Linked DNA regions of Homo sapiens: region 2 is linked to region 1. Evidence: fine-mapped expression QTL. A gene starts in region 1. The other region holds a variant in brackets. All regions are shown on one strand. Distances are between the middles of the regions.

Region 1 (9,184 bases):
GAGAAGCTATTAAGGGGAAATTCTCAGATAGCTATGGCAGGAGAAGAGACGTGGAAGTGCCACAAATGAAGTTTACGCCAAGTCCTGAGACCTGATTTTGGCCAACTGTGTAAACTTGCCTTGCTGTGGAACTCTTTCCAGAGATAGAAGCATTAAGAATAATGCAACAACCCTGCTAATGTTTGCACCTAGAGAGGTTACGCTGACAACAGCCAGGCCTTCACGTCAGGCTGGTCATACCGGCATTCCTTGTCTATGGATTCCCTGCCATGAGGAACAGACTGCAATGGATGTTCACAGAGTGCTTTAAGAAGATTACATCCTTTTAAAAATCCATAAAATTATTACAAAAAAGAAGCCAACAAAACACTCCTTCCTGAAATTGTTCCCTTTGGGTAATAATATGAAAACATGTTTCCCATTGGAGCTCTCTTACAAGAAAAAACCTTCACTGTCAGATTTCTAGGTTTCTAATATTGAGATTCCTAGTATTTATGTACTCTGAATCCATGTTTGTGTGTATGCATAAATACACACATGCATATATAATTTAGTAAAATATAGTATGTGTATATATATATGTGTGTATATACATATTAATATATACATATATATAATTCAGTTAAAATATAGTTAAAAACAACCAATGAGCAATGTTCCAGCTAGTCCTTCCAGATCAGTTTTGTAAATTCTGTGAGGCACCTCCTCAAAACACCATCCTTTAAAACCAGCAAGACATAGCCTACTGCTGACTCCCTATGGCCAGAAAGGACACTCAGACAAGAGGCCTTCACTTTGACAGCTATCATCTGTCCTGGGCAAAAGCCAACAGCCACAGCACAGTCCTTCACCTTACACACTAATCTTGTTAAGAAAGCAAATCCTGAGATTTCAAGGCTGGGTTAAGAGAACCAACAGGTTCTCAGTTAACTTAGTGGCAAATGTAAGTGGCATCAATGAGTTCTACAATGCCAAGTATCGCCCAGTCTGGGAACAAAAACATTCCTGCCTTTTTTTTTAATGAATGGCAATTTAAAATGATAACTTTATGCTAAAGATTCACCTTTAACTTGTCATCTAACCAGTTATCAAAGCAACAGTGCAACACAGAATTCTGGCTTTGGGTGTCACTTCACATGTCAAGGCGCTGCAGCGGTGACTTGCAAGGTGTTTAGACGGCGGGCGAGAGGCTGAGTGCGTGGAAAGCCCTGCTGAAAGCCTGTTTTAAGCTTCCATTCGGTTCATCTGCTTTCCCACGGGCAAGCAGCGCCTATCACAGAGCTACCCCAGTCTTAGGTCAGCAGACAATATGGGCGAAGTCTGCAAGAGACGCACTGGCTTGGGTGTGGTCACTGGCAAAGAAAAGCACTGGACCCCTAGCAGCGGCTCCCAAACCTAGAGCCTCACCCTTGCGGGATCATTTCCACCCGCTTCTCCGCAATTTGACCACAATCCGCACCAGCCCTTACGGCTCCCCCTGAGAAAGCACAGCTGCAGCCCCTAGACTACGGCCGCCTCGGCAGACAAAGCCGCTGCTCGGGGGAACCCGCGCTGCACCGAGGCGACCTCCAGTCTTTGGCACCTGCGTCGCCGCCCGGCAGCTCCGCGCCGCTAACCACGCCGCGTCTCGGCAGCGGGTGGACAGCGCGGGGCGGGCGGCGGCGCTGCACCAGAAGGCACCCGAGCCGGAGTGGGGGGGTGGCTGTCTGCAGGCCCCCAGGCCGGGGGAGCGCCTCCCACACGGGATTCCCGGCGTGGCCAGGCCCCCATAAAACCCCAAAGCCAGCACGTGCCCGGAGGTTCCGCAGGGAGTATTCCCAGCACCAGAAAACTGCACCCTCGCGTCCTGGGTGGCCCTGGTTTGTCGTCGGATGGACACCAGGGTCGGCTATTGTTCTCCGGGTCTCCCCGAAGGGAGATCCGCCTCCCTGGCAGCACCTGCTGCTGGGCAAAGCCTTTCAGCTCCTCGAGAAAAGGGCGTGCCGTGGGCGCCGCGGAAGATCACAAAACCCTAAGCGAGTCGCTACCGGCTGGTTTCAAGCCTGGAGACAAAGCTCCTCACCAAGCCAGCCCAGCCCGGTCCCGGATCTGCCATCCTGGGTCCCTAACCCCGGTCCGAGGGCCACGCCCAGCCGGCCACCTGGGCCGCGGGGCCCCGCGCCTGGAGCTGAGGATCCTCGGGCCCGAGACCGCCTCTCAGCTGCTTGCCCCTCCCTCCTCGGGAGGCTCCCCTTCCCAGGAGGCCCCCCTCCCCCGCACAGCGCGGGTCTTCTCCTCGCTCCCGTCCTCCCTCCTCAAACCCAGGCGGCCTCCACCCGCCTGCATCCCTCCTCCCCTCCCCATTCTTCAGCAGAACCAGCCTCGCCGGGCGCCACCTGCACCGAGCTCCTTCCCTCGTTCTTCGGACCCGCCCCCGCCCCTTCTCTTTCCTCCTCAAACCCTAGTTCCCACTCCCTGCTCCCCGAGACCCACTACCTGTCCTAACCCAGCTCCCCAGCCTTCCCCATCCCCATCTTTTCTCAACCGAGGCCTCCCCTCGCCCTCTCCCGGCTTCTCTCCAGCTCAGACTACAGCCCCGTCCCCAGGCCCGGGGCGTCGACGTCGGTGCCCGCTGAGATCGATGCTGCAAGGCGGGCTCCCGCGCTGGGCTCCAGCCGAGGGACCCGGCTCGGCGCCCGCTCCGGGCTGGGCAGCCGCAGGAGGCCTTTGTGGCTCAGGCGGGAGGCTCGGAGGCGGCGGGCGAGTCCTCTGCAGGCGTCCGCTCCGTTAGCCGGGCGGTGGAACAGACCGCCGGGTCGGGTCCAGGCTGGGCAGATCCCAGCTCGGAGGCGAGAAGGACGGAGGGTGTGTATCTGGGTGGTGTGTGGGACCGGGGACAGCGCAGATCCTGGGACCGGCAGGACTGGCCCCCGGCCAGAGGCGCCCCCGCCCAGCCCTCCAGCGGTCCACTGCACCGCGCCCGGCTAGGAAAGCGGCCCACTGCGTGCTAGGCGCGAAACCCCTCGGCCGAGCCGCCTCCTCACCCCAGGGCTTTGCAACCCCGCGAGCACGCATTAAACGCTTACTATGAGCAAGGCCCGGCACGGCGCTTCGCGGGCGTACAAAGAGGACCCCAAGAGCGCCCCGGCTTAGCCCCGATGGCCACCTCCCAACCCCAAACCACACCTCCCGCCGCGTCCCCTGCGGCCGGGCCCCAGGCTCACCCGGCTCCCCGCCCTTTTGTGCGCCTCACGCAGAAACAGAAGGGGGAGAGGAGGATGTCCTAGCCCGGGAGGGGTAAGCCCACCGACCCCCCTGCCATCACCCACTCCTCCGAGATGCTGCGGCCGCGGGGGCCCGTGGCTCGGTCCGTCTCCGTCTCGCCGCGGCGCCGGAGCTGCGGGTGCTCGGGGCGGCGGCGGCTGCACGCGCGCTCGCTCGGGGGCCGCCTCAGCGCGCCCAGCGCGGGAGTCCAGAGTGGGGAGCGGGGGAGGGGCGCGTGTCGGGGGCTGGGAGCGGCCTCCGCCAATCACCGCGCGGCCGGCTCCTCCCGCCGCTCCCCACCTCAGCTAGCAGGTTAAGGGGAGGCGGGGACAGGCGGCGTCCCGCATCCTTGGCGCCGCGCGCCGCCGCCGCCTGGGGACTACAACTCCCGGCAGGCCCTGCTGCAGGGCCGGGGTCCGAGAGCGGACGGAGGGCGCGGCCGGAGAACTCACCGACCCCCCTAGCACCCGGCTCCGCGTTCCCTCGGGTTTCCATGGCGACTCAGGACACCACAAAGCCTGGACGCGCTGAGGCACGGGTCCCCAGGGAGGGCCGGGGGCGGTTCCGGAGGACACCCCGCCTCCCCTCCCCCAGCTGGATCCCACCCCAGGGGCTGAAACAATGCCGCGGCCGCCTCTCCCGGGCTGCGGCCGCGCTGCCCTCCGCCGCAGGACCCCGCCGAGGCCGCCTGGTTCGCGCCAAGACCCGCTCCGACGCCCGCGGGATTGCGGGATGCAAAGGGCCGGGTGGGCGTTATAGGAAAACTGTTCTCATGAACAAAGTGGACGGCCACTTGGGGCCACCGCAGTTCGCATCTGCACCCGGGGAGGTCTCGAACCCGGAGTGCGTTCTCTCCACTGAGAAGATTTTGCCCAGCGCCACGCGGGTGCTTCCCTGTCCAGAGCGCTCAGGCCCAGTGCCTGTCTTATTTCTGGCTTCTGTCAAGGGACAGCGAAGCCTTTGGAAATTATTTATAACCCAATTTACATTCGCTTCACCTGTTTCTTCATGTTTAAATACATACATAATTTACCAAAATAAACAAATCTAAAAAAGGAGAGGAAGGATCATCCCCGGTTTGTCCCACCTCCCTAGCTAATCCCGGTTCAAGCCTTTGCCATTGATCTGTGTTATTTTCTGCAGTTGTAATAATAGTTTGGATTAGTCATTTGCCTCTTTGCACTTAATGTCACTCCAAAGGCGTTGCGATGCGCGTTAAAATGCAGCATCAAGGACCTCCAAGCTGCAGCTGCAGAATCCCTCCCTCCCCGGGCTCCCCGGCGATCCGGTGGGGAGAGGAGTCCCCTGGCAGCCATGGCCTCGTGAGGTGGTTCTCTTTGCAGGATACTTTCAAACAAAATGGTGTTCACTACTCCGGGGGCGTGGAGGGGGTCCCCTCTCCCCATCTCAGCAAAATCTACCCGGGCGCAGGACCCGCAGAGCCCGCCAAGGCGGGGTTCCCTGCCGTCCTTCCCCAGAGAGCTTAGGGCCTGGACCAGGCCAGGCTGGCCTTTGAGGGATGCATTTCTGGATTACCCCACCCCTGAGTCTGCACTCCTTCTCCCCTTCCCAACTCCCGCCTGCTTGGTAAGCAGAGAGCAGGGAGCCCCCAGAGGAACCTCAAAGCATCCCTAACCCAGTGCAGCCCGGGATGTGGCTGTGAAAACTGCTCCAGCTTGGGGCACTGCCCTATGGATTCTCCAGGGCTTGCCCGGACAGGGATGTAGGCAAAATGGACTGGGCTTCAGGGAGGTGGCGTGGAGCTGCCAGCGGCCTCCCGGCGGCGGGGTTCCGAGACTACCGCGCGCGGGCGGTGCTGCGCTTTTTGCTTAAGGGAGAGAGAGCCCTCTAGTGACTGTAAATGTTTTCTGCAGCGTCTCGTAGACCTTAAATTTGGATTCTAGCATCTTAGCTTTCTTGGGCTACCTTCCCTAGTCAGCGAAACGGCTGCCTCTACGTCATCTGTCAGTTTAGGATATTGATAAAGGTTGCACCCAAACCGGGGGTTGCATATGTCCTCAGTCCTCGACTTCGGTTTGTTGTTGCTAACTTAGGCTCCGTTTCCTGGGAAGTAGAAAGAGCACAGAGCTGGGAGTCCCGCATTGCTGGGTTGGAATCCTTGCTCCTTCAGTTTCTGCCGACTTGACCTTGAGAAAGTGACTTACTCCATCTGACCCTTAGCTCCACCCAGAATACTGGGGTCATATACATTCTTTTAACCTTGTCGTGGAAATTAAATGAAGAAAGGTAGATAAAGGCCATAGCACATTGCCTGGCATAGTGTGCATGCAACAAATGCAGCTATTATTATTTATCCCACAGAAAGTGGTTATTGAACAGTGTGAGGGATATAAGAATATGTGACACTCCCCACAGTAACAGCCACAAAAGGCAATATGTTGTGATTTTTATTATAAAGCTCATATTACTACTCGGTCAGATAAAGTAGAATAAGAATTCAGACGAGAAAGAAAGCAGTTCTGCATAACACTGGGAGATGGAGGAGCTAGAATTTGGATTTCACCTGGATATTGATTTGATGGACAGTTCTAAGCAAAGGTCTGAGATTCTGGGGTGAAGGAGCAAAAGCTTATGGGTGGGGAACCCAAGCGGGTATTTGGAAGACAGCAGAAGAACCCACCATGTCTTGAAAGTCAAGTCCCTGAATGAGGGTGATGGGAAGAGAATGGGGATGGTGAGTTAGGCAGGGGTTGGGGGTCAGACCTCACAAAGCCCAGGGCTACTGGTTTTTATGAGTAAATGTGTTCTGAGTTCCCAACAGCCTTAACAAACTTCAGAATAAATACAAGTTAAAGACCACCATGAAAGGAGGAGGGAGGAAAATCGCACTGTCTGAACTCCTATTATGAGCCCGGGTCTATTTGGTGTTTTACAACACATCATTTAATCCTTGCTACTCCACACAGGAGGTAGCATTGCTCATTTCTTACAAATGAGGCTATCTGGATTTAGAGAGGTTAAACGATTTGCCTGCGAAGTCACACTGCTGTAAGCAGCAGAGCCAGGATTCCAAAGGACATCTGCCTGGTGCAAAGCTGAGCCCTTCCTGCTTCAGCACGTCCTCCCTGCCAGCCTCCAGAAGGCCGGATCTCCAGTGCAGAGAGAGCCTGTGACGGTGAGTGACCCTCAAGGAGAGCCTGTTGCCAAGTCATGGAACCCAGATGTTCCTTCCTCTGCAGCGGCAACCTGTTCCTCCTCGAAGTGCCCCCGGGAAAGGGGCTCTCCAGTATTCCCAGGAGCTTTGTATAATATTAAGTTTCCTCCTCATCCTTCTCTTTTCACCTTTTTTTGCTCCTTATACTTCTCAGTGACAACCCTAGTGTGGGGAACACATTGTGAAGTCTAGTTAGCCATTAAAAAAAAAAAGTGAGGCCAGGTGCAGTAGTTCATGCCTATAATCCCAGCACTTTAGGAGGTCAAGGTGGGAGGATCACAAAGCCCAGGAGTTTGAGATCAGCCTGGGCAATATAATGAGTCCTTGTCTCTGCAAAAAAATTTTAAAAATTAGCTGAGTATGGTAGCAAGTGCCTGTAGTGCCAGCTATTCAGGAAGCTGGGGTGAAAGCATCACTTAAACCCAGGAGGCAGAGGTTGCAGTGAACCCAGATTGCTCCAATGCACTCCAGCCTGGGTGACAGAGGGAGACCCTGTCTCAGAAAGAAAAAATAGGCCAGGCATGGTGGTGCATGCCTATAATCCCAGCACTTTGGGAGGCCAAGGCGGGCGGATCACCTGAGTTCGAGACCAGCCTGACCAACATGGAGAAACCCCGTCTCTACTAAAAATACAAAATTAGCCAGCCATGGTGGCGCATGCCTGTAATCCCAGCTACTCAGGAGGCTGAGGCAGGAGAATCACTTTAACTCGGGAGACAGAGGTTGTGGTGAGCCGAGATCACGCCATTGCACTCCAGCCTAGGCAACAAGAGCAAAACTCCATCTAAAAAAAAGAAAGAAAAAAAAATAGGCCGGGTGCGGTGGCTCAGGCCTGTAATCCCAGCACTTTGGGGGGCCGAGGCAGGTGGATCACCTGAGGTCAGGAGTTTGAGACCAGCCTGACCAACATGGCGAAACCCTATCTCTACTAAAAATACAAAAAATTAGCTGGGTGTGGTGGCAACCGCCTGTAGTCCCAGCTACTCGGGAGGCTGAGGCATGAGAATCACTTGAACCCGGGTGGCGGAGGTTGTGGTGAGCCGAGATCGGGCCACTGCACTCCAGCCTGTGTGACAGAGCGAGACGCCGTCTCAGTAAAAAAAGAAAAAAAGAAAAAAAGAAAAAAAGAAAAAAAAATTTGGCCGGGTGTGGTGGCACAGGCCTGTAATCCCAGCTACTCCAGAGGCTGAGGCCGTAGAATCGCTTGCACCCGGGAGGCAGAGGCTGCAGTGAACTGAGAGCTTGCCATTGCACTCCAGCCTGGGTAACAGAGCAAGACTCCATCTCAAAATAAACAAACAAACAAATAAATAAATGTCAACCAGCAGTCAAACCTGTGTATTCAAGACAGTGCCACAAAGCAGGAGCCAAATTTAAAAAGCACGGGGCCGGGGGGGCAACAAGACAGACAAACAGACTTTGGGAGAGGGAGACAGGACAACAGAGGCAGCATGAAGAAGATCTAAAGACATAGAGATATTCAGATACACAAACAGGGGAATGAGACTGGAAGGGTTCCAGGCCCCAGAGCAGTAACTACCCAGTCAGACACAGGGGATGGAGGAGGAGGCCTGGGGAGGCTGAGGGGGTGCTGTGCTAGAGCTGAAACATCAAAGTAAATTCCAATGGTTTATCACTACCCTTGAAACGCCAAGGAGCTCTCCGAAAATTTAAATCATTCCTTCTGGCCTAGGAAAGTTTTGGTTTTTTTTTTTTTCCTGCTTTTATTTTTAAATTTCAGAGTTTAATTTTGAAATGCAAGTTTGTCTTCTCTTGGAACGAGAATGGCCACAAACCAGCATAAAGGAGGAACTGCTGGATGATTCCAGCTGCCCCAGCCTTGTAGCAGAAATCTAAAACGTTAAATTGGCATTTATTTCACGCACATATAGAGGTTCTTTAAGCCAAACAAAGCAAGAAATTGCATAGTCTCACAATGCCATCATTATCCAGATGAGGATAATGAGGCTTTGTTTTAAGCCTTTTTTCTCCCTTAACAAATAAAATTCGAGTATTAGAAAGAATAATAATGAGGACAAGAAACATAAGTCAAACAATCACCTTCAGGGAACAAAAGAATTACTCTAAGAGCCAGATCTTTAATCACCTTTTGGTTCCCTACCTGTCATTTTCCACAACACAGGGCTTTACTGAGCCCCTACTGGTGGAGGAGCTGAGAACATAGGAAAGAATCCTCTCACCCATGCCCCCAAATTTAATTTTTATTTATTAGGTGAATCCAAAGAAGTAAGCCAGTAAGGCCAGGTGTGGTGGCTCACACCTGTAATCCCAGCACTTGGGAGGCCAAGGCGGGTGGATCACCTGAGGTCGGGAGTTTGAGACTAGCCTGGCTCACATGGCGAAACCCTGTCTCTACTAAAAATACAAAAATTAGCTGGTGTGATGGTGCACGCCTGTGGTCCAGCTACTCGTGAGGCTGAGGCAGGAGAATTGTTTGAACCCTGGAGGTGGAGCCAAGATCACGCCACTGAATTCCAGCCCGGGTGACAGAGTAAGACTCTATTTCAAAAAAAAAAAAACAAAAAACAAAAAACCAAAAACAGTAAGAAATACCCTTACTACCTTTCCCTGATATTCTTTTTATGAAGCCAGTTCCTCCGTTGAGCTTTCTTTTGTTTTTGTTTTTTAGAGATGGGGTCTCACTCTGTCACCCAGGCTGGAGTGCAGTGGTACAATCATAGCTCACTGCAGCCCAGCTCATTTTAAAAATCTTTCTGGGGAGATGAGGTCTCACTATTTTGCCCA
Region 2 (9,184 bases), 91 kb before region 1:
TAGAAATAGTGCAAAATTATATGCTTTTGGAGATCTGTAATGCAAGTCTTCTTCAAAATCCCAAGCCCCTCTAGCCCTGGGGACGAGCAACAAACTTTACTTTGTGGCTTCTGGGTCCCACACCACCACATCAGCATCGGCTCCGGGAATAATGCGGCCCTTGCGGGGATACAGGTTCAGAAGCTTAGCTGCGTTGGAACTGGTAACGGCCACAAAACGGTTCTCATCCATCTTTCCTCCAACCTGAAATGTTGCAGAAAGTGTCAAGTCAACCAGGCTCTGGGGGTGGGTCTCAAACCCTTGGTCACCTTTGATGCTGGCCCATGGACTTAGGGCTTAGGTGGTCAGGACAGTGGTCACAAAGGGACAAGGCCATGAGCACCATCTCAGATGAGCCAGCCTGCTTGGCTGGGTCCCAGTTGCTCACTTATTCCTTTCTCCCTTCACCCAGCAACTATGGTGAGTGGCCGTGGTTCCATTCAGGCTTCCTGCCCGGGGGCAAATCTGCCTCCTGTTTGTAAAACCAGCTCTGCTCATGTGCCCACACGGATGAGTCAGGAACCTCCCTTCATCTACTAAGGGTGATATTTTCAAAGGGTTATATATGCTCTAGAAAAACATCTTATTGCCCCACCCATGAGAGTACTATGGACTCTCTTCAAGGGGATTTCCTGAGCCATCTCCTTGGCCTTCCATGAGCTTAGTCTTGAGAACTTCAAATCTCTTTGGGGCTCATACTATTTTAGATCTAATCTGAGATAGATCAAGACCAAAAATACTTATTCTTCATGTGCGGAACAGGTGGTATTCAAATGAAGTCCCAGTTCTTATCTTTTCTGAAAGCAATTAGACAAAATATATCAAATCAAGAGCCTTAAAAATGTTCACATCCCTTGGCCTAAAAATCCACTTCTAGGATGCTGTCTTAAGGAAATAATCAGAAATAATAATCAGAGGCCGGGTGCAGTGGCTCATGCCTGTAATCCCAGCACTTTGGGAGGCCAAGACGGGCGGATCACGAGGTCAAGAGATCGAGACCATCTGACCAACCAACATGGTGAAAACCCGCCTCTATAAAAAATACAAAAATTAGCTGGGCATAGTGGCGCACGCCTGTAGTCCCAGCTACTCGGGAGGCTGAGGCAGGAGAACCGCTTGAACCCGGGAGGCGGAGGTTGCAGTGAGCCGAGACAGCGCCATTGTACTCCAGCCCGGGCAACAGAGGGAGATTCTATCACACACAAAAAAAAATAAATAATAATAATAATAATAATAATCAGAAATGCTGACACACACTCCTGAACAAAGAGGTTCTCCTCAGCATTATTTGTAAGTGCAAAAATTAGAAACAGCCGAAAGTCCCAAACATCAGGGAAGGATTAAATAAAGTATGGTACTTTCATTGGAGAAAATATCATTCAGCTCTGAAAAAAGATGTTTTTAAAGAATTTTTACTGATATAGGGAGACACTCAGGGTATAGTGTTATATGAAGAAAAAAAATCCTGGTTAGTATAGCAGTTGGTAAAAGAAAAAAATATGAAGCCAGTTATTAAAATAATGTATAGCTGGGTGTGGTGGCTCACACCTATAATCGCAGCACTTAAGGAGGCAGAGGTGGAAGGATAGCTTGAGCCCATGAGTTCAAGACCTGTCTGGACAACATAGTAAAAAAGGAAAAAAAAAAAAAAAAGTACAGTACATGCACAGAACTAAATGAAAGAAATATATTAAAATGTTAATAGTAGTTTAATTTCTAGGCGTGGAATTAAGGTTTCTTTTTTTCTTATACTTTTCTGTATTTTCCAAATTTCCATAATAGGTCTTACTACCTTTCTAATTGGGGGAAAGACCTTTTGTGTTTTGTTTTTGAGTGAAACAAACAGCTGGGATTGAACCAGCCCTTCTAAGAACATTCTTTGACAGGATCTGAGGAGTGAATACTCTTATTGGGATTAGAACGGGGATGAAACGGGGATTAGAGCAGGGATCAGATCGGGGCGGGGCTCTAGGAAACATACCACTCCTCTCTCCCAGATGACGCTCATGCGGTCCTGCACGCCACTCACTCCATGTGGGATCTTGGTGAAGTCTTCCTTGCCCATAGCTTTCTGCTTTGTGGTGAAAGGCCGGTGATCTGATGCCACGATGTTCAGAGTGTCACTGGGTAGAGAAAAGGAGGTGACCAGTAAGGGGAGGGGAGGTGAGGAACTTAGAGGGTGAGGATAGATATAGGGAAAATCCTCCGTGTGGGAAGCAGGCAAAGCCGACTCCAATTTCAGCTCTGCCGCTTAGGCCATGTGGTCTGTCGTGAGTTACTGCATCTATGTGAACCTCAGTTTACTCATCTACAGAATGAGTGTGGCACAGTCTGTCTGTGTCACAGGAGACTTCAGTGAGAGCCTTGGGATAGCAATGTTTAAGAGTGAAGATAGCAGAGAAAAGCCGAACTTAGAGTCTAGCTGAAGTGAGATGGTGGAGGTAGTTCTACTCTCATGGAATTGTATACCAATTCCCTCTCATCAGCTCTCCAACCCCAACCTGCTGGCAACAAGCATTCACAAGTTCAGTGTTAAGCTTTGTTGAATAACTTGGACTCATAGCCTTCCTTGGATGTGGGGATTCTAATGGCCCAGAAGGGGAAGGAGGGATGAGCTAGAAGCCTGACTTAATAGACCGAGAGTGGTATGCAAGCCACTCAGTTCTTCCCCAATGCCGTTCATGACTACGGTCCTCACACATATATTAAGGCTGTCCTCGGGCCAGGTGCTCATGCCTGTAATCCCAGCACTTTGGGAGGCCGAGGCAGGTGCATCACTGGAGGCCAGGAGTTCGAGATCAGCCTTGGCAACATGGTGAAACCCTGTCTCTACTAAAAATAGAAAAAAATTATCTGAGCGTAGTGGTGGGCGCCTGTAATCCCAGCTACTCTGGAGGCCGAGGTGAGAGAATTGCTTGAATCCAGGAGGCGGAGGCTGCAGTGAGCCAAGATAGCCCCAATGCACTCCAGCCTGGGGAACAGAGGGAGACTCTGTCTGAAAAGATGAAAAAAAAGCCATCCTCCATCCAAGGCTGTGGGTGGCTAAGGCACAGGCAGGCCCTCGAGGGGCTCCTGGGCCAAAGAAGACGTAGGGAAGAACAGGGAGAGAGGGCTCATGGCAGCAGATCCTCTGCCCAATGAGGGAGGCAGGCAGGTGGCCTGGATTCAGAGATCTCTGCAGGCCAAGGGCTCAGAGGCAGTGAGGGGCGGAGGAGAGAGAATGCCCACGCAAACCAGGTCAGGGCCTCAAGAGGAAATGGCTTTGCGGGGCCAGAGAAAGGCCTGGCTGGAGCAGGGGAGTCAGGTGGGGGAGGGGATGACTGCTGGGACCACACTGTGGGTGCCCTGAAGGTCAGGGGCAGGGGTCCCATTGTACTCTGTAAGAGGCCCCAGAGCCTTGTGAGTGCCTGTGGGCCATCTAAGATGCCCACTCCAGGAGACTGTGGGGGCAGAAAGCATTATCTGACCTGGTGAGGAAGCATATTCTTAAGGCTCTCAGATGATGGCCAGTTAGCTCCATAGGGCTGTCTCCACGGGGGACCTGGCAGGGCTTATCAGTCTCAGCTCCTGCCCAGTGACTAATGTCTTTGGCCAAACCCGTGGTGAAGATGCATCGCTCTTCCTGTGCGGTAGGCTGGGCCTTCTCTGGGCCAAAGAGGCTGCTCTGGCCCTTGCAGAGACTCTTTGCAAGAGATTCTCCCGCAGAGCCCCAAGGCTCCCCACACTCTCTGGACCTGCAGAAGCCCTGATAGATGAATGGAATCTTTAGGGTTTCCTTTCTCCTGAGGGGCCCTCTGGATACCTGAGCAGGGCTCAGGGCAGAAGATGCCCACTGCAGTCATGAAGGGCAGGTCAGGGACCCTGAGAGCAACAGGCTCAACTCCTGCTCTTTAACCAGCAAGTCTTCCTGAGCACCCAGCTTTCTGAAAAGGCTCCTACACAAAGGTACCCACTAAGCAGCTGTGAATGACGGTAGTTACATTCTAGGAGGCCCTCTGAGCTCTCTCAGTGCTGCCCTGAATCTGGGAGGTAGGAAGCCCCCATCCAAACCATTTAAAGTTTAAAACATGACTGGCTTTGCTAAGCACTGTAACATTTTATATGATCAAATGAAAAAATTTCTTGTCCCTTTAAGAAACCAGATTTTAGGCCAGGTGCAGTGGCTCACATCTGTAATCCCAGCATTTTGGGAGGCCGAGGCGGGTGGATCAGTTGAGGTCAGGAGTTTGAGGCCAGCATGGGCAACATGATGAAAAAATACAAAAAATACAAAAATTAGGCTGGGCACGGTGGTGCAGGGTGGCTCACGCCTGTAACCCCAGCACTTTGGGAGGCTGCACTCCAGCCTGGGAGACAGAGTGAGACCCTGGCTCAACAAACAAACAAACAAACAAACAAACAAACAAACAAA[A/CAAAA]AACTAGCCAGGCATGGTGGTGCACACGTGTAGCCCCAGCTACTCAGGAGGTTGTACCACTGCATTCCAGCCTGAGTGACAGAGCCAGACCCTGTCTGAAAAAAAAAAACAAGCCAGAATAAAGCATAAATAGTTATATCTATAGATTGTACTTTTTTATTCCTGCAGGGCCTAACAAATCACAAATCATACCCTAAAGTAGATAATTAGGAAACAGCTCATATTTTCTTATAGGAATAATAATTGGTGTCTGAATTTTCTATCAAGTATCTTGCATCATATAAATTATAACCAATAATGTGTTACAAAAGCAAAATTATAGTCATCATAAATTTCTATAAATATTAAAATATTAAAATTATGCTCCAAATCCTATAAAGTAGCACCCATTTACAATATGCACTGATTAAAAAGGGATTAAAAAGGGATTCAGACTATTATCATAACACAAAAAGTACATTTCTACTTAAATAAATAGAATTAATTTAAATAATTAAAATACATTTGACAAAGTAAGCTAGATATAAAAACTTAAATTATTCAATGATACTTATTCCAGTCTATTTGAATTTGTGTGGGTTTGGGCGCTGTAATTTGGGTGGGTTGAAGCACTTATTATCTTTTTTGTTCTTTCAGTAAATTTGCTTGTAGCAAGCAGGGGTGTTTCAAAAGATTCTTGACCTTGGAACCAAGCCCACATTATTATAGTGGAGTCTTGGTAATTGTTTCTTTTATTGTATTGCTGATGATGAAAAGGAGGTTGATTCTTCTCAAAACAAGCTTTTTTTTTTTTTTTTAAATGAAGTCTTGCTCTTGTTGCCCACGCTGGAGTGCAGTTGTGCGATCTCAGCTCACTGCAACCTCCGCCTCCTGGGTTCAAGCGATTCTCCTGCCTCAGCCTCTGGAGTAGCTGGGATTACAGGCACGAGCCACCATGCCCAGCTAATTTTTGTATTTTTAGTAGAGACAGGATTTTACCATGTTGGCCAGGCTGAACTCCTGACCTCAGGTAATCTGCCTGACTCCGCCTCCCAAAGTGCTGGGATTACAGGTGCGAGCCACCATGCCCAGCCAAAACAAGCATTTTTTAAGAGTAAGAGCTGATCTAGCATTTCTCTCTTAATCTTTACCCTCCATATTTATTTACATAATGTAAATATGTAAATATTGTAAGAGCTGCTGCCGCCTGGCACCCACCAAGGCTATGGGACAGAATACAATGACCATCCCCATGCCGTGGTGCGTACTGCCCTCCACAGAGGCCACCTTCGCCCACGCCCCTATCGATGGCACTCCACTCGCATTGGCTAAGCCCTGCACCCCCCAACTCTGTTTAGGTTGTGAACATAACGGGATGGGAGTGGGAGTTTTCCAGTGGTTGGCAACCAGAACTGAAAGCTAAGGACATGGATGAGACAAGCACCTTATTATCTAAGACAGCCATCTTCGGTGGGGCCAGTCGCTTCCCTCCACTGCTCCTGCACCATCTTAGAAGAGGCGAATCCCCATCCCCCAGGTCTAGAAAGCGGGACCCTCGGAGGGAGACTGAGGGGTTGGCAGGATGGAGAGTCCTGGCATTCCCTCCCCTCCTCTTTCCTGAGTTGAGTGGGGCTTCCATACCCTCTCCTCACCAGTCCACCCTGAAGACAAGGAGGGCATACTTCAAGAGGTTCACTTGTGGAGAACAGAGCTGAGAGCAGTGGGCACCTTGCCTGGACTGTGGGCTATGGACCTGCCTCTGAGCCACAGGGAGCAGAAAGGCTGTGTGGGCTTCCTCTGGGCCTCAGATACTGTAGAAGGTGGCCAGGCATAAGTTGCCTTGTGCAGGTCCTTGTTCACAGAGGCATTGCCAGTGCTGCAAGCTGGGAGGGATGCATGCTTGGGTATGGAGAAGAATCCCCTCGCCTTTTGTCCTAGTCCTCCTACCCCAACCCAAGCTGAGCTGGGGATCAGGAGGGAAGGAGATGAAGTCTTAAACTGGATGGAACTTTAATACCCAAAAGTGAAGAGAAAGCATCGTCTTCTCCCCCAATTTTTTTTTTTTTTTTTTTGAGATGGAGTCTTGCTCTGTCGCCGGACAGGCTGGAGTGCAGTGGCATGATCCTAGCTCACTGCAACCTCTGCCTCCTGGGTTCAAGTGATTCTCCTGCCTCAGCCTCCCAAGTAGCTGGGATTACAGGCACACACCACCATGCCCGGCTAATTTTTTGTATTTTCAGTAGAGACAGGGTTTTACCACGTTGGCCAGGCTGGTCTTGAACTCCTGATCTCAAGTGATCCACCCACCTCGGCCTCCCAAAGGGCTGGGATTACAGGTGTGAACCACTGCACCTGGCCCCAAAAATGTTAATAGGAGAGAGAAAGAAGCTGCAAGCAGTTATTGGGATAAAACAGAAACCCTTCCATAATTGGGTCCCACTGAATTCAGACCGTTCATCAAACCATTTCCTTTAGATTGGGATTGCATGGGGAAAAAGCAGTGTCAGAAATAGAAGAGCTGGAGAAAGGAGATCTGGAGGAAGGGTGTGGGAAGGAAAGGGGGAGAAAGTGCAGAAGAAAAAGGGAAAGGGGAAGGAAAGGAGGAGAAACCCACAGAAGGAGGGATGTACAGACAAGGGGCACACGGGAGCCAACAAGAAGAGGGAGAGGTGAACAAAAGAAACAGAAAGGACCCCTACATTCTAGGATAAGTCACAGGCCACGTTCTGCAGCTCCCCACTGGGCTTTAGAGTAAGAGATCAATGTCCTTTGAAATTCCGAATAACCACGGTTCACAGTTCTATATGTGCTCTTCACTCTTATACTTCAGAAGATCTCACTCCATATCAAGCGGTCATAAAATCCCAATAGGATGGCAATTATCTGATGGGCTCAGAGAAGGTAAGAAAAGCACAATGATCCTATGGGCACAATGAAATCAAACCTAGCTCAGATTTGTTTCCTGGGCCCTCTATGACGTCTTCCTAAAGATGTACACATCCCTGCAATGTGCTGCTGAAACGCCTTACTTGGCCAGCAGGCTCATGAGGTAGGTTGAGGTGTTGGTGTCCAGTCTCAGGGGAGGCACCGTGACATAGGCAGCCGCGTGGGACCAGTCCTGGTGGTAGTAGTGTAAGCCTGTCAGCGTGGCATGTGCAGTGGTGGTCTCCGCCAGCACAACCTTCCCTGGAAGAAGAAAGGTCAGAACCATAACCAGGAAGCCACCGAACCTGAGCGATCGCTGGTGTGTGCCTCTCATTTTACAGGTGAAGGAGCTGAGGTCAGAGACAGGAAGGGACCTGCCCAAGCTCACAGGGCTTTTAAGAGCACAGCTGGGTTCAAGCCCAGAGAGCCTCCCTATTCTGCTGACTTAGGCAAGGAGGACAGAGGGACATGGGCACCGAGGCCCAGCAGGACCAAGCGGCACTTTGAGGAGTCTGGTTTGGCCAGATGACCAGAGCACTGGTGTGTGCAGGGTGCTGTTGGCAGATGGAGCTTGACGGTGGGTGAACAGGCATGCAGGGCCACGAATGCCACGCTAAAGAGCAGTCTAGACTGTTTTCTGGACAGGCAGTTGCTGTGAGCAGCTTCAAGAGAACGGTTGTGGTAGGACAGGGAGGGCCGTAGCAGGGCTGGAGGACAGGGAGACAGGAGGTGGGAGCAGTCACCAGGCTGGGACGACAGTCTAGGCGAGACCCTCCAAGGGGCTTCAGTGAGGGGAGAGGCAGGTGGCGGGATCTAGAGGGCGATAGAGTTGAAGGCCAGGATGCCCTTGCTTCTGATCGATTATAGTTGAAGGCTGAGATGCCCTTGCTTCTGATCTGTCTCCCCAGGCTTGTGACTGTGACTTTGTTTCTCCTGCTGCCAGGCCCTCACCAGCACCTGGGGCGGGGCTGGACTCCAAGCATCTGCAAGCCTTTAGGTACTGCCAGGCGATCCGCAACAGAAGCCATACAAGTGCCCCTCGGACTCATACACAGGGTTCCAGGAGGCTAAAAGGAAGCTGGGCCCACACACTGTTCTTTCTTTAGGGACTTCCCAAACAGCCCCTGAAATGCCCACTGAAACTGGTCCAGCATTTTATGTTAGTTGCCAAGGCAACTGCTAGTAAAATCTATGAGGCCAAAAAGACACTAATTAATGAGTGGGTTTAAAACTTGGAAAATGTTACCAGACCCAGGAGAAGTGACAGACACTTCCGTAAAGCTGTTATGCATACAAATTTGCAGAAGAAAAAGCTCATGTTCTAGCAGACTAAAGCCAGCATAGCACAGGGCAGCTCTGAGGAAGACGGTGGCAGATGAAAGGGAAGGGCTGGCTCAGGTCCTGGTTTCAGGAGCCGGGGCCAGGAGTGAGCACGGCTAATGGGCCCCATCCATCTCCAGTCCCTCCACTTGACCTGCTCTGTCCAGCCAAGTCTATGGACTCACCTTGCATCTTAGCAGCTGCGATAACGTCACCAGCCGAGATACTGGACACGTTGACCAGGTAGATTGGACAGTGAGTCTAAACACAAGAAACAGTGGGAAGTAGGGAGGGTTGACCCATAAACTTCACAAGCATCAGAATAACCCTGGCAAAGTCAGCCCTGGCACCAGCGCCTCCCCCTGCGTCACTCAACCCCACCCTCAAGGTGACAGTCCTTAAGCGGAGAATGCAGGGCTGGCAGTCAGGGCAAGGTTGCAGGAACTGCATGATACGGGGAGGCAGAGAACAGCCTCCAGCACCAGAGCCCACCGGGAAGCCCAGCCTGTG

The links. PIP is the estimated chance that this variant, and not a neighbour inherited with it, causes the effect.
Region 2: its variant is fine-mapped to the expression of DPYSL5 in prefrontal cortex (ROSMAP, PIP 0.95).

Annotation. Positions count from the first base shown.
Region 1 is chr2:26,842,379-26,851,562 of GRCh38, reverse strand. DPYSL5 (dihydropyrimidinase like 5) reads right to left here and starts at 3,431. Exons shown (of 13, transcript NM_020134.4): 1 at 3,309-3,431.
Region 2 is chr2:26,933,009-26,942,192 of GRCh38, reverse strand. It overlaps DPYSL5 (dihydropyrimidinase like 5), which reads right to left. Exons shown (of 13, transcript NM_020134.4): 7 at 8,860-8,935; 8 at 7,459-7,615; 9 at 2,021-2,162; 10 at 101-243. Among named protein-coding and RNA genes, the nearest start is that of MAPRE3, 33 kb to the left of the region's middle. RefSeq lists an enhancer at 7,341-7,840. The variant A/CAAAA (reference allele first, on the strand shown) is at 4,451.